Regions from separate parts of the Homo sapiens genome. Here region 2 is linked to region 1. The links come from fine-mapping of genetic effects on gene expression. Tissue or cell type: pancreas. Region 1 holds a variant in brackets; the other region holds the start of a gene. All regions are shown on one strand. Distances are between the middles of the regions.

Region 1 (8,097 bases):
AATGCCATCCGTGGGGGGTGTGGCCGGCGTGGCCACCTCGGGGCCCCTCACGTGATCTCCTCGGTCCGTGGTTTTCTGTGGATTCTCTGTCCAGTCCGTCTCTTCATTGCCGCCTCCGGAGTCCACTGCAGAGGGGCAGAGTGAATGCCGGCGGCCAAGTGGCCTCCGGGACAGGTCCTGGAGCCCTGCTGGACTCAGGGTGGGTGGAGGCTGTGCCTGTGGACGGCCGGGGTGGCCAGGACGGCCAAGGGCTGGGAGGCACGTCCCCCAGCCCAGCCCCCATGTACACTGTAGTCGTTCTATTGTACAGAAAAAAATATTTCTATATTTGCAATGTTTGCTGTAAAATGAGAAAGAAAAAAAGACTATGTCTACTAAAAAAAAAAAAAAAAAGACTATGTCTACTTAAAAAAAAATCTGCAAAGGAAAACAAATCAAATGCTTGTTTGTCCTGGGTTTTTACTGTGGGTTTCAGGGAAAGAGTTGAGGTTTCTTTTATGTCCCGTTTAGGGGGTGGTTTTACTGATTTTGGCCTTGGGGTGGGGACACGCTGTGCTCTCTTGGCTAGAGCGTGGTGTGACCAGGGGGGTGCACGTGGGAACCCTTGGGAGGTGGGCGGCCCGCACTGGGCTGGAGCGTGTCTGAGAGCCGGTGTGGACAGGGTAGGCGGGAGCCAAGCTCAGGTGGCGGCGGGAGGACGGGCGGGAGCAGGGTCTTGGTGTGGTGGATCCACGGTGCGGGGCTGCTTCTGTGTGTGTCTGGCTGTGCGTGCCAGCGGGGTGTGTGCAGAACCCAGCAGCCGAGGGGGTGTGAGTGGGCCTGGGACGCCCAGAGGCTCTTGAGTGAGGTTCCGGGTGAGCCGATGGTGTGGGTTTGCATGTGATTGAGCGTGAGCGTGAGGTGGTTGGAGGGTGTGTCTGTGTGAGGGCGGGTTCCCCTGCTGTCGCCAGAGCCCCACCTACAGGAAGTGCCCAGAGACCCCTAATTCTTCGGGGGTCTCTCAGGACGCTGAGCCCGGAGCCAGACCCTGCACTGCAGCCCCCTCCATATGCATCTCACCCACCACCCCTCCAGGCAGCACGCCCTGGTGTGGGCCCCCGTTCTGAGTGAATAAGAGGCTGGAGTCCATGTGGGACGAGCACCAGGTTGTTTAGCATCCCCAGGGGAGGATGGAGAGAGTCCCTGGCTTCCTGCTGCCCAGAGCACAGGGTGCCCCTCATCCCACCTACAGGAGCCAGAGGGAGACGCTGAGGACGAGACTGGACTCCCAGGCCCTCGAATCCACCTGCCAGCTGAGTGGGGGTTTTGTACCCACCCCAGGGAAACAGCCCCCAGCCCTGCATCCCACGCAGAGCTGCCTTTCTGCTCAGGGGGAGGGCCCTGTGAGGAAGGGGAACACCTCACCCTGGGCCCGGACACCTGCCTGATGCCGGGACTGCTGAGTCAAAGCTCCCTGTCACCCCTCTCTTCCTGTCTGGATGGCCCCTCCCCTGTCCTTCCTAAAGTCCCGGCTGCTGAGCCCCCACCCCACCCCTCCATTGATGGCAGACCCACCCCCACTCTGAACTCTGGCACAGACCCAGGGAGGGAGGAGGCTGCGGCTGGAGCCGGGTCCCAGAGGCAACAGGAACCCGGGAGACTCCAGGGCAGGAACCGGAGGGATGAAGCCGGTTTTCAGGCTCTGACGGGTCCCCCAAGAAAGGACCCAGTCTCAGTCTGACCCAGTGGGGGACAAGGAGGGAGGGAGGAAGGGCCAGTGCAGGTAGGAGCAGGGGCAGCCTCTGCTTGCACGCCCTGGGTGACGGGAAGCTCACCCCTCTCTTCTGTAGCTGTCTCCAGCTTTCGGGACCTCCCTTACAGCAGAAGCCCAGGGGGCTGTCCCCCAGGGGCCACAGAACTGAGGGCCCATCTGTCCCCTCCAGGTTAGCCAGCCCGATCCTGCCACCTGCACCCCGGTCACCCCACCAGGGACCTGAGAGTGTGAGGCCTGCTCCGGGGGTGCACGCCCGGGTGGGCTCCACGGGCACCCTGTGACTCAGCCCTCCAAAGGGGGCCATTTCTGAGGACGCTGCATCACCAGCTCTTCGCCGTTTGACCCAAGGTTTCTGGCCAGCCCGGGACTCTCAGCCCTGGGCAGCTCCCTGTCCTCCATGAGGGGTCCCGGGAGGGCATGAGAGACCGCTGGAGACCACAACGCCAGGCCCAGGGGAGAGGAGCGGGGACCAGGAGCGGGTTCCAGGGCTGACGGGTGGAGGCCCAGAGAGGGCCCCAACCTGCCCAAGGTCACATAGCAACTCGATGACAGTCTGGTCATGGGACAGAGAGGTGGCCAGGCCTTCTCAGCCCGCTGCTCCCTTTCACTGAGGAGCGAAGATGGGCTATTTATAGGAAATGCGGGAGAAGGGCAGACACAGAAGAGAGGCGCCTGCCTTGGGAACACCGGGCAGCTGGCCAGGAGTCAACGGCCCACAGAGGAACAAGGGAAAATGGCAGGCAGCGAGGTGCGGGGTCCTCAACAGCCAGGACACCCCGCCCGGGAGCTCAGCCCTCCTGGAAGCCGCGGGGCTTGGCCCCGAGTGTCTGCAAACGCCCAGCCAGTCCTGGGAAAAAGAGGCCCGAGTTCCCGTGCCCTTGCTTGAAGGTGTCATGGTGGGGGTGACAGGACATAAGCAGGAGGAGACACACACTTAGGAAGCGGCTACTGTGTGCAGGGCTCTGTGCCAAGCTCTGTGTGGGCGCAGGGAGGAGCCCAGCCCGGCCCCGGCCCCCCGGGGAGCTCACAGGCTGGCAGAGAACTCAGTGCAGAGGTGGGTGACCCGGCTCAGGGCAGCAGGGGAGGCGCTGGAGGTCTGGGAAGGATGGGAACTCCTGACTGGGAAGAGCCGGGAAGGCTTCCTGGAAGGGGTGGTATTTGGTTTGGGCGAGGAAGGAGGTGGAGGTTGCCAAGGTGAGAGGGGTTGGTGCCCTGTGGGCTCAGAGCTGGGCTCAGGAGCAGGAGAAAAACCTGCCAGACCCAGCCTTGCCCTGCAGCTGGGATGGGTGCCCAGCTTCCGAGGGGCAGCCCTGGAGGGCAGGTCTTGCTCGTTTGTGAGACCAGGGCTAAGCCACAGCGAGGCCTCAGGCCCAGGCCGTACCCCTACGACCGTGTGACCATAGCAAGCCACTGGCCCTCTCTGCCTCAGTCTCCTCGTTTGTCCAGTGGGGGGGATGCCGATGCCTGTCCCTCCTGCAGTGCACTGGTTATCCATTGCCGTGATCATGCTGCCTAACCCACAACCACAGTGCGGTATGGCCCCTCGGGGGGCGGCTGGCAAGAGGGCACACTCTCATGTCACGGGGCACAGGGAGGACCGGGTTCTTCCCCACAGTCTCCCATCCTCCATCGAGCCAGCACGGGCTGGTTCTTGCGGCGACAGCCGAGGGAGCAAACCCCAGGGTCACATCTGCTGGCATCCCACAGGCCAGGGTGAGCCGCGGGGCCGAGCTCAGAGGAAAAGGGTGGACAGGGCGCCCCAGCCCAGGGGCCTGTGGCCAAGGCTGCAGACACAGAGGGCAAAGACAGGGGGGGCCTCTGTGCACCGAGGCCTAAGGCATGGCTGAGTCCAGGTGTCCCCTCCCGGGGCAGAGGGCAGAGCAAGAAGAGCAGGAAATCCAAGGCCCCAGGTCTCTGCCACCCACGCATTCACTCAGCACCCAAACGCAAAGAGCCTACTGTGTACCAGACACGCTGCCTGCCACTCCCCACCGAGAACACCTCAGCTGCGGTGGCCTACCCTGTACCAGACACGCTCCCCACCAAGAATGTGTCAGCCACGGTCCCGACAGGAAAGAGCAGACACCCCAAAGTAGAATCCTTCAAGGGGTTACCTACAAAGGGGCCATTTCCAGAGACACCAAGCTGACGGCACACCTTGGCCCCCTGGGAGAGGGGGAGGAGGAGAGCCCCCGAACCCGGAGGGAGAGAGAGAGGTGCAGAGAGGCCCACGGGGCCCTGGAGAGGGACCTCAGGGGAAGTTCCCAGTGGGCCTCAGCAGCCTCGCAGGAGGACTGGGGACACATGCCCACCCCCGCTTGTCCCCCGATCTCCCTCCCATCTCCTGCTGGGCTCCCTGCTGGCTGCATGGCCAGGACATCAGGGAGCCCGTGATGGGGCCCGCAGGGCTCAGTCCACAGACAGCAGGGGTGAGAAGGTTCAGAGACAACCCGGACTGGGTGATGGGGGAGGCTGGCCTGGGGGCAGCCACAGAGGAGGGGGCCGTCATCTCCACTGGGGACAGGGAGGCTTTTAGAGGAGGTGATCGCTCAAGACTGAAGGTGGCCGGGCGCGGTGGCTCGCGCCTGTAATCCCA[G/A]CACTTTGGGAGGCCGAGGCGGGTGGATCACCTGGGGTCAGGAGTTCAAGACCAGCCTGACTAACATGGTGAAACCCCATCTCTACTAAAAATATAAAAATTAGCCTGGTGTGGTGGCGGGCGCCTGTATTTCTAGTTACTTGGGAGGCTGAGGCAGGAGAATCGCTTGAACCCGGGAGGCGGAGGTTGCAGTGAGCCGAGACGGCGCCGCCGCACTCCAGCCTGGGCGACAGAGCGAGACTCCGTCTCACAGAAAAAAAAAAGTACACAAAGCAACTACAGCAACAACAAAAATCAGACAAAAAGACCCTGAAGGACAATCAGGAGCTGGCTTGGCAGAGACAAGGCGGCAGGGACGGGGAGCGGACTTCCACCCAGAAAGGATGGCGGGGGCCAAGGTGCAGAGAGCACAGACCCCGACCCCACCCAGAGGGGCCACCATGGGGCAGTGAGGGGGCCCGGCCTGCTGAGACCAGGGATGGGGCGGAGCCAGGCTCAGAGGCCTGCTTTGCAAGTGTGAAGAAATGACAGTCGGCCTCTGTGCATAGGAAGCCATTGAAGTCTTCTATTCTATTCTATCCTAATTTTATTGAGACAAGGTCTTGCTCTGTCACCCAGGCTGGAGTGCAGTGGCACGATCATGGCTCACTGCAGCCTCAAATTCCTGGGTTCAGGTGTTCCTCCTGCTTCAGCCTCCCAAGTAGCTGGGACCACAGGTTCGCGCCACCACACCTGGCTATTTTGTTTGTTTGTTTGTTTTATAGAGACGGTGTTTTGCTATGCTGCCCAGGCTGGTCTTGAACTCCTAGACTCAAGTAATCCACCTGCCTTGACCTCCCAAAGTATTGGGATTACAGGTGTGAGCTGCCTCACCCAGCCAGTATGTTAAAGAATAATAACTTTTATTGATTTTTGTTTTATCTCAAAAGTAATCCTTTTGCTACATAAACTTCAGAAAACAGTTAAAGAAGGAAACAGAAATCATTTACTCTCCCCACCCTGAGCTAACCATGGGAATATATTGGTATCTGCCTTTCTAGCCCTTTCTCTCTAGAAATGCAGCAGGCTTGAAATCTCTACCCCGCAGGTGGATATGCAAAGAGGTATCTCTTTATTTTCTGTAACAACAGGTGTTTGTAGCCTCTGTTTCCCCCAGATGGGGTGTAGGGCGTGGTGCATGAAGATGGGGAAATAACGTGTGTTTTAGGATCCAGTGGAGAAGAAAACGTTGATGGCGAACGGAAGAGGGAAAGAATTGCTGGAGCAATGTTTGAGTAAGACGGGACGAGACACTGTGCTCCATGGAAGGGCCGGGCTTGGCCAGACAGGTCTTGGACTTGGCCGTTGCTCCTCCTTAGCGGGAGAGAAGGTGGGGATGTGGGCTCTGGCGTGGGAGCTGGGGGCACACGCGGGGCGTAGGGACAGTCTCTTTGGGTGACTGCGATTTTCTCAGCATCTCTTCTCACCCCATTGCATTGCCCTTTTGTTCTACTTTCTAGGAGTCTTTAAAATTTTTACTTTAAATTTGAGGTAATTATAGAGTCACAGGAAGTTGTAAAAATAGAGTCACCCAGCTTCCCCCAGCGGTGACACCTTACGTAACTGGCGTACAGTATCAAAACCAGGAAGTCGGCTTGCACCTGGGTGTAATTTTGTTAACTAGACTAAGATCTGATTCAGTTCCTAGCAGCCTGTACACGCATTCACCTGCGTGGACGTGTGTGTAGTTCTTTGCAAACTTACCCCCCGTATATAGATTTCAGTAACCACCGCCCCAGTCGAGATTCAGAACTCTTCCGTCACCACAGGGATCTTGTCCCCCCCACTCCACCCCAACGCTACCCCTGCCTGGCAGCCACACATCTCTTCTCCGTTTCTGTCATTTTGAGAAGGTTATATGAATGGGATCATGCCCTGTGTAACCTTTGAGGTGTTTTTCGCCCACTCAGCGTAAGGCCCTTAAGATCCACCCAAATTCTTTTTTTTTTTTTTTTTTTTTTTGAAATGGAGTTTTGCTCGTTGACCAGGATGCAGTGCAATGGCACGATCTCGGCTCACTGCAACATCTGCCTTTCTGGTTCAAGCGATTGTCCTGCCTCAGCCTCCCAAGTAGCTGGGATTACAGGCACCTGCCACCACGCCCGGCTAAGTTTTGTATTTTTAGCAGAGACAGGGTTTCACCATTTTGGTCAGGCTGGTCTCGAACTCCTGACCTCAGGTGATCTGTCCGCCTTGGTCTCTTAAAGTGCTGGGATTACAGGCGTGAGCCACCACCGCACCTCGTCTACCCAAGTTCTTTTATGGGATCAACAGTTTAGTTTGTTCCTTTTCATCGCTGAGTAGTATTCCTTTGTATAGATGACACACCCAGGTTTATTTAACCATATTCACCTGTGGAAAAACATTTGGGTGGTTTTGCACTTTGGAGCCATTACAAATAAACTGCTATGAACATTCACGTGCAGGCCTTGGTGTGAACTTAAGTTTTCATTTTTCTGGGGTTAATGCACAGACATGCAGTTGCTGGGGTGCATAGTAAGTGCATGCTGGCTGCTCAAATGTTTTTCAGGGTGGCTGCGCCATTTTTTATCACCACCACCAATGTATGCGAGATGCAGTTTCTCCACACCCTCACTGGCATTGGGTCGTATCACTATTTTCTGTTTCAGTCGTTCTAATAGGGTGTAGTGATCTCATTGTGGTTTAATTTCTATTTGCTGGTATCTACTGATGGTGAACACCTATTCATGTGAAACCTATTCATGTGCTTATTTGCCCTCTGTAGCTCTTCTTTGATGAAATGTCTCCTTACATCTTTTTTCCCTTTCTCTTCCTTCCTTCCTTCTTTCCTTCCTTTCTTCTTTCTTTTTTTCTTTCTTTCCTTTCTTTCTTTCTCTTTCTTTCTCTTTCCTTTCTTCCTTCCTTCCTTCCTTCCTTCCTTCCTTCCTTCCTTCCTTCCTTTCCTTCTTTCTCTTTTTTGACAGAATCTCACTCTGTCACCCGGGCTGGAGTGCTGTGGCATGATCTCAGCTCACTGCAACCTCTGCCTTCCTGGTTCAAGCAAGTCTCCTGCCCCAGGCTCCCGAGTAGATGGGATTATAGGCACCCGCCACCACAACCGGCTAAGTTTTGTATTTTTAGTAGAGACAGGGTTTCACCATATTGGTCAGGCTGGTCTCGAACTCCTGACTTCAGGTGATCCACCCACCTCAACCTCCCAAAGTGCTGGGATTACAGGCGTGAGCTGCCGTGCCCAGCCTTTTTTCCCATTTTCTAAATGTTTCGTTTGTTTCTACTGTGGGGTCTTAAGTGTTCTTTACATTTTTCTAGAAACGACACCTTTGTCAGATGTGTGCTTTGCAAACATTTTCTCCCTGCCTGTGGCTTGTCTTTTCATCCTTTGAATGCAAGCATTTTTTTTTAACGTTTTGAGGTCTAGTTGATCCATTTTTCACTTTCGTAGATCATGCTTTTGGTACCACATTGCCGAGCCAGTGGTCCTGAAGATGTTCTAGTATTTCTGCTATATTTTATTTTAGAAGATTACAGTTTACTTTTTGCATTTAAATTCGTGGCCTATTTCGGATTAATGTTCGAAAGCGCCGGGATGGTGGGCGTGAGCCAATACGCCCAGCCAATCCCTCTGCTTTTAATAAGTGCCGTCACCTTCAGCTGTGCCCAGTGTCCTTAAGTCCAAAGTGTTCGTGATTCTTCCTTTCCTGGGACTAAATTTCTAAACAAGGACAGC
Region 2 (8,097 bases), 200 kb before region 1:
GGGGGTGGGCGCAGGAGGGTTCGCGTGAGAGCCGGGCCCGCCCTGGGCGCAGGAGGGTTCGCGTGAGAGCCGGGTCCACCCGGTACCCCTGCACCAGCCCAGGTGAGCCGGGAAGGAGGTGGGGGTGGGCGCAGGAGGGTTCGGGTGAGAGCCAGGTCCGCCTGGTACCCCTGCACAAGCCCAGGTGAGCCGGGAAGGAGGTGGGGGTGGGCGCAGGAGGGTTCGGGTGAGAGCCGGGTCCGCCTGGTACCCCTGCACAAGCCCAGGTGAGCCGGGAAGGAGGTGGGGGTGGGTGCAGGCCACCAGGCACCTTCTATGTTTGCATTTTCTAGTTTTCTACAATGGGCATCCTTATTACAATTAGAGAAAATAAATTGTTTGCCTATTGTAATTAGATACATACTTTTATACGTATTTACTATAGAAGTACATATAAGTATGAATGTATATGTTAAATACATATTTCTGGTTACAACTAAAAATAATACACATTTGAATAATTGACTTTTTATGGCCGGGTGCAGTGGCTCACACCTATAATCCCAGCACTTTGGGAGGCCGAGGTGGGTGGATCATTTGAGGTCAGGAGTTCAAGACCAGCCTGGCCAACATGGTGAAACACAGTCTCTACTAAATACACAAAAATTAGCCAGGCATGGTGGCGCGCGCCTGTAATCCCAGCTACTAGAGAGGCTGAGGCAGGAGAATCGCTTGAGCCTGGGAGGTGGAGGTTGCGGTGAACCAAGATTGCGCCACTGCACTCCAGCCTGGGCGACAGAGCGAGACCCTTTCTCAAAAAAAAAAAAATATTTTTTTGAGAAACATGGTCTCGCTCTCTTGCCCAGGTTTTTTTTGAGACAGGGTCTCGCTCTGTCGCCCAGACTGGAGTGCAGTGGTACAATCATGGCTCACTGCAGCCTTGAACTCCCGGGCTCGAGTGATCTGCCTACCTCAGCCTGCTGAGTATTGGGACTACAGGTGTGCACCACCTTGCCTGGCTAATTTTTGTATTTTTTGTACAGACAGGGTCTCACTGTGTTGCCCAGGCTGGTCTCAAAGTCCTAGGCTCAAGGGATCCTCCTGCCTCCGTCTCCCAAAGTGCTGGGACTATAGTCATGAGCCACTGCACCTGGCCTAAAATTTATTTTTTAAATTGGCAAATCAAAATTGTATGCATTTACAGTGTGCAGCGCGATGTCTGATATGTGTGTTCGTGGGGAATGGCTGAGTCAAACCCATTAACGTCTCCATTATCTCCCATACTTAGCATTTCTTTGCGGGGAGGACATGTAAAATGTACTCTCTTGGCAATTTTCAAGCATAGAATACATTGTTATTTATAACAGTCACCATGTTGTACAATAGGTTTTTTTTTTTTTTTTTTCTGAATAAGTTCCTTGGGCATGAGTGAGGGTCCTGTTTGTTCTTAGCCTGGGAATGGGAACGCTCACTCATTCCTTCATTCAGCAGGCGTTTCTAGAGCCCAGCTAAGTGTCCAACCCGGGGGACGGAGAGGGGACACGTCCCGGTCCTGGGCTGGGCAGACTCTCAGAAGGCACATTGGCTTTTGCTGTGGGGGCATCCAAAGGATGTGCACCCTTTGATTCCTAAGAATTTGTCCCTCCCTAGGGGCCAGGCACGGTGGCCCACGCCTGTAATCTTAGCACTTTGGGAGGCCAAGGTGGGCGGATTACCTGAGCTCAGGAGTTCGAGACCGGCCTGGTCAACAGGGCGAACTCCATCTCTACTAAAAAATACAAAAATTAGCCAGGCGTGGTGGCGGGCGCCTGCAGTCCCAGCTACTCGGGAGGCTGAGGTGGGAGGATGGCTTAAATCCGGGAAGCGGAGGCTGCAGTGAGCACTGATTGTGCCACCGGACTGCAGCCTGGGTCACAGAGTGAGATCCTGCCTAAAAAAAAAGAAAGCCTGGGAAAAAGTATGGGTGATTATAGTAGTGTTTGCCTTTAAACCTTTCTAGATTTTCCACGTTTTTATTTTTTTTAATTTTTAATTATTATTTTTTTTATTGAGACGGAGTCTTGCTCTGTTGCCCAGGCTGGGGTGCAGTGGCGCAATCTCAACTCACTGCAACCTCCGCCTCCCGGGTTCAAGTGATTCTCCTGCCTCAGCCTCCTGAGTAGCTGGGATTATAGGCGCGCACCACCATGCCCGGCTAATTTTTGTATTTTTAGTAGAGACAGAGTTTCCCCATGTTGGCCAGGCTGGTCTCAAACTCTTGACCTCGGGTGATCCACCCGCCTTGGCCTCCCACAATGCTGGGATTACAGGTGTGAGACACCACGCCTGACCGATTTTCCATGTTTTCTGTGAGGATACAACTCAACTACAGGGTCTTTGAGACAGGGTCAGCCGAGCCTGGGAGCTGGGCGCACAGGGGCTCCTGGGGAAGGCCTTCTGGAGGAGGTGCATGCGTGGCGGTGGGCGAGCAGAGGCTACGTGCACCTGGCCGCTTGGGGTGCAGCTCAGGGAGTTGGGGGAGGTTGGAGGCAGGAACAGACTCTTATCAGTCACACGCTCCCCGATGGTCCCTGGGAGGGACGGCATGACCAGCCATCAGGAGACCTCTCCCGGGGCTGGCGCTGCCTGGCTGGGTGACCTTGACAAGCCACTGTCCTCTCCGGCCTCGGTCCTCCCATGTATAAAGTGAGGGGGATCCAGCCACTCTGTGTCCTGCCTGGGACTCCTCACTCAAGGGTGACTCTGGCGGTGGGCTCAGGGGTGGGACAGGGCCTGAACTCCAGCCCAAGGGGTCTCCATGAGCCCTGTCTTGACTGCGAGGCCCCATGAAGCTAAAGCCACACTACAGCCGCGCACACACAGCCGGTTCCCAGGATTACAGCGGAAAGACGGCCTCCTCCGGGAAGCCCTCTCTGATGGCCTTACAGGAAGGGCCTGCCTCGGCACTGCCTCCGCGGCTCTGCACACTCCAGGCCACACTCATACACGTCTACCGTGGGTTCTGGTTATCTGTTCACAGCTCACTGCAACCTTGAACTGGGCTCAAGCGATCCTCCCATCTCAGCCTCCCAAGTAGCTGGGACTAACAGTGCAGGCCCCCATGCCCGGCTAATAAGCAGTTAATAAACTGTCACTGAGATGCTCCCTCGGAGACTTGTGGCCACCGGTGTCCCTGCCTGCCAGTCTCCTGATGGCCCCCTGCCCCAGCTCACCTACAGATCCATTCCCTACACCAGTGCCCCGTGCACCCGGGAAGCAGCTCTGCCCTCAGCCCAGCCCTCCACAGCCTTCCTGGGCTCCCAGCACCCCCTGAAAGCCACCTCACCGCACTGGGGTCAAGGGCTCTGGACAAATCCCTGCAGCCGTGTGGCCCTCGCGGGCCTACACACGCACTCCCACCCCACCCCTGCGCACACCGCCCTGGCCTCTCTGTGTATCTGAGTCTCTCAGGAGGGTCCTGTCCCTGACTCCCTGCCCTCTCTGCCCAGCCCCTGCCCTCGGGCACCACTTCCTCCTTGCCCCTGCCTGGCCCTTCCTTGCCACAGCGCCTGGCCGCTTCTCTACCTGGGGGCTGTTCTGTTCCCACCTGGGGACTGCTCCGGGTCGGGGGCTGTGTGTGGCTTCGGGCTTGGGGAAGTTGCTTCTCGCCCATCTCCTGCACAGGAGTCCCGGTCCCTCTAACAAGCTGTGACCTTTGCTCCCCAGCTCCCTACAGAGCAAAGTCCAACCCCCTGCCAACCTCCCACCAGCCTTCTCCAGGGTGTCACGCCTCTGGAAGGAGAAGGCCCCTTCCCCTTTCCAGCTATGTGAGCCTGGGAAAGACCTCTGGTCTCTCTGAGACTCAGTCTTCTTGTCTGTGAAATGGGACCACACTGCAGACCTCAGTGAGCCGAGTGACGAGCCTGTGAAATAGCCAGGGGTGCCCGGTGGGCGCTCTGCCCTCAGCCTGGCAGAGATCTCCCCATTTTCAGGCCCAGCTCCCACATGCCACATCCTGGGGAAGCTCATCCCCTCCCCCGTGCCCTGGCCGATCCCACTTCTGACAGCGTCTATAGCAGCGGCACCCAGGGGGACCGGGCTGAGCCACGGCCACGTCCTGTGGAGACCAAGGTCCTGAAGGAGGCTCGGGGGCGGAAGGGCTTACCTGGTGGCAGGTGAGCACCAGGGCAGTCCACACGAAGATCCCCGAGACGCCTCGGGCCAGTGCGGAGGTGAGGAAGAGCCAGGGGGCCCCCTGGGAGCTGTTCCCCATGTGGTCCATCTGCGGCCCAGCTGGCACAGCCGGTGGGGGGCTGGGCTGCGGCCAGTTCGCTGACACCAGGGGGACGCCGGCTGTCTCCAGGATCCCTGAGACATTACTCATCTGCAGAGGGAGGGAGGACACACACCGGGAGGAGTGAGGGCAAAGGTACTGGCTCCCGGCAGCAGGAAGCAGCGGGGGAGGGAGGAGACAGTGAGACGGGAGCTGAGGCTGAGCCACCCACCAGGCCGCACCCCCCACACGGACACCAGCGCCAGGCCCGGCTCCCTCCCTGCTCCGAGCTCAGCCATCGAAGCTCACCCATCAACCACCTGCGACCTGAGGGTCCCACCTCAATTCCCCCTTGTAAAACCAGCTTCCAACTCCGAGTCTCAGGCTTGCAGGGAGCCTGCTTCTTAGGGGACAAAGACCGTCTTCCAGTGGGGCAGAAGAGGGGGAACCCCTGCCGCCCTGCCTGCCCGGGAGGGCTGGGGAGCGGGCGCAGACCAGCACTGCCTGCCCCGGCAGGAGGGGGTGTGCAGCCACCCTCATGGGAGGAGCCGGCCCTCACTGGCTCTGGGACCTGTCCACCCACCTGGGAGCCCGGCTTTGCTGGGGTTCTTGGCAGCCCTGGGTGCCTGTTCCATCTCCCACTAACCTGCTGGGGCCCTGAGTCCACCCTCTCCCACACTCGCAGCCCAGTCCAGCCTCCTCCTCTCCCTCTGGTCTGCGGTCACAGGGCCCAGCTCTACCTTTGCTGGCAGGAAGCACCTGGCCCAGTCCAGGGAGGCCTGGCCTCCAGGGAAGCCTAGCTGGTCATTCTCATGGCCACGTGGCCCCAACTGGAGGCCCCACTGTGGGTGCGGCAAGGCCAGGATCTGAAGGGCTGTGCCAGGCTGGGGCGGGGCGGCCAGTGCCTCACGTCCCCAGTGGCCCACCTGGGCCCCAGGCTGCAGGCCCGTCCCCTCCTGTCCCCTCCCACGGCTGACACCCTATCCTCCCGGTTGTTTGCTGGGTGGCAGCTGGCTCCCAGGAACCTGCTGGCCGCCTGGCGCCCTCACCTGCCTATGCCAGACGGCCAGGCAGCTGCCACCTGGTGGGGACACGTGGGAGAGGTCTGCGGCAGGCCAAGGAGGGCCGGGCTGCAGGAGGAGGGGTGGAGAGCTAATGGTACAGGGTTTCTCTGGGGGGTGACAGGAGTCCTGAAATGAGGTAGAGGCGGCAGGCACACAGCACTGTGGATATACTTACCGCCACCGAATCGTTCACTTAAACCTGGGTAAATTGATGTTATGTGAATTTCATCTGAATTAAAAAAAAAATCCACGCCCCAAGAGATGAGTTGAAAACATTTGTTTTCTGGGCCGGGCGTGGTGGCTCACGCCTGTCATCCCCACACTTTGGGAGGCCAAGGTGGGTGGATCACTTGAGGTCAGGAGTTCGAGACCAGCCTGGCCAACATGGTGAAACGCCGTCTCTACGAAATACGCAAAAATTAGCTAGGTGTGGCAGCGTGCACCTGTAATTCCAGATACTCAAGAGGCTGAGACAGGAGAATCGCTTGAACTCAGAAGGCGGAGGTTGCAGTAAGCTGAGATCACACCACTGCACTCCAGCCTGGGGACAGAGGGAGACTCTGTGTCCAAAAAAAAAAAAAAAAAAAAAAGGAAATATTTCTGGTTTTTGTGGATCAAGGCAGGAGAGGGGGAGTGACAGCCCAGTCCCTGGACCCTTTGGGGTCTGGCAAGGGGTTGCGGGGCCCTGAGGGTCCCTGTCACCCCCATGCAGAGGCCCCTGTGGAGAAAAAACTCACTCACCCCGGCTCCTGGGAGAGGGATGTGGGCCCTCAGCCCACCTCTTGTCCTGTTCTGGTTACGCTTGGGCTCATGCCGCTGGGGCCACCATTACCAAGTCCCGCTCCATGCCCGCAACGGATCCACACACTCCTTGTCCTTCATATCTCCTACCCTCCCACAGCCCTGAGCAACAGGGCTCAAGGGGTTGAGGCTGGAATGACTGGAGCCACTGTTCCCCTTTTATTTTTAATTAATTTATTTTTTGAGACGGAGCCTCGCTCTGTCGCCAGGCTGGAGTACAATGGCGCGATCTCGGCTCACTGCAACCTCCGCCTCCTGGGTTCAAGTGATTCTCCTGCCTCAGCCTCCCGAGTAGCTGGGATTACAGGCGCCCACCACCACACCTAGCTAATTTTTGTATTTTTAGTAAAGACGGGGTTTCACCACGTTGGCCAGGCTGGGCTTGAACTCCTGACCTCAGGTGATCTGCCCGCCTCAGCCTCCCAAAGTGCTGGGATTACAGGTTTGAGCCACCACGTCCGGCCTGTTCCCCTTTTAGAGATGGGAACGAGAGGCGCATCAACGCGTCCAGCATCCTTGAGGGGTCCGTGAGGGGCCCGGGCTGAGGCCCATCCTTCCCTGGGACACCCTGCCTGCTTTTCCCAACTCCTCCACTGACACTGTCCCTCCAGGGAGGCTCCCAGGTGGGGAACAAGCTCAGGAAGTCGTGCCCAGCTCTCAGGCCCGCCTTGCCTAACCTCCCCATCAGCGCCCACCCGGGCCCGGGCCCAGAGCCACAGCATGCACACCCTGGCTGGGCCCTCCTGGAGCCTGCCTGCTCCCCAGGCAGGGACCTTCTGGACCAACCGACCCTGCTCCCGGGTGACTCTGTCCTGCAGCCTCAGGCGTCACCTCTGGAGAGACCATCCCCGCTGTCCCATCACCCTCCTCACTGTGTGTGTGACTCCCTGTCCACCTGTCTGTGTTTGCTGCTGGTCCTCCCTCTGCAGGAGCTGCCAGAGCCTAGAGCTGTGCCCTGTCCATGCTCGGGGCACAGGGCTTGCGGGGTGGGGGCTGTCCTGCTGAGGCGGTGACCCTGTGGGCTAAGGTCTCCCTTTGGCCAGGCAGGGGTGCTGGAAGGCGGTCCCCAACTTCCATCCAGCTGCATTCCCACTGCAGCCACAGGTACTCCTGCCGGCCTCCCACCCGGCCTGCAGAGCCCCAGGCAGTCGGCTCAGCGCGTGTGGATGTCGCCCTCTGGCTGTGTCGGGATCACCGTCACGGACAACTATGAAGTGACGATGGCTGGGGGCCCGTTTGAAGGGTGAAGACTTTGGTGCCTGGGCATGCGCAGAGCTGGAAGGGACCGGGAATCCCCTCATCCAACTCGCTCATGCTACAGGCAGGGAAACTGAGGCCCCAGCCCCTGCTTGATTTGCGTCCAGCCCCCAGCACAGGATGAAGCCTCGGGCCCCTCCCTGGGCTGACGGTGGGAATGGCTGTGCAGACAGCAGGAGGCACTGTGGCTAGATGTCAGCAGGACCGTTTTGGCTGGAGCCAGCAGAGCCAGGCTTCTGGGAGGGCTCTGGCTTCGGGCAGGCTCAGGGCTTGGGCCCCGGACACAGACTGAGGGACCTCCAAAGCTCTGTCTTCCGCCAGAGGCAGATCCTCTGTGGAAAAAGGTGGGGTTTTCTCACAGGGCCAGCTGGGCACTGGACAGGGAGGCCTGCTGATCTCCTCAGCCCACAGCTGTCCCGGCTGAGCCAGATGCGCCAGCTCGGGAACCGTGGACCAAGTGTACTGGTCTGGGGATGTCAGGAGCAGGGCCTGGTCCCCAGGGAGGGGCAGTCGGGAGGTTGACCGCTCTGCCACCTGCTCACAGGGCTCGCCGGCTGATCGAGGCCTCACCCGGTGCTGGTGTCACAGCCTCTGCGCCCGGTCACAGGAGGCGGCAGGGCCGGCTGGGCCTGATTTTTCTGGCGGGGGCGGGACACTGACCAAGCCCATTGCAGGACAGACCTGTCTGCCCAGATCCAGGCGACGGGGCCCTCTGACCATTGTTCACTGCGTCCAGGTGCCCAG

The links. PIP is the estimated chance that this variant, and not a neighbour inherited with it, causes the effect.
Region 2: it holds the start of TMEM184A, and the variant in region 1 is fine-mapped to the expression of TMEM184A in pancreas (GTEx, PIP 0.99).

Annotation. Positions count from the first base shown.
Region 1 is chr7:1,747,508-1,755,604 of GRCh38, forward strand. It overlaps ELFN1 (extracellular leucine rich repeat and fibronectin type III domain containing 1), which reads left to right. Exons shown (of 4, transcript NM_001128636.4): 4 at 1-439. Among named protein-coding and RNA genes, the nearest start is that of ELFN1-AS1, 9.2 kb to the left of the region's middle. The variant G/A (reference allele first, on the strand shown) is at 4,350.
Region 2 is chr7:1,551,143-1,559,239 of GRCh38, forward strand. It overlaps TMEM184A (transmembrane protein 184A), which reads right to left and starts at 5,063. Exons shown (of 9, transcript NM_001097620.2): 1 at 4,972-5,063; 2 at 4,124-4,342. The coding sequence starts at 4,342. RefSeq lists silencers at 3,589-3,771, 5,139-5,208, 5,249-5,338 and enhancers at 3,881-4,681, 4,251-4,545, 4,682-5,481.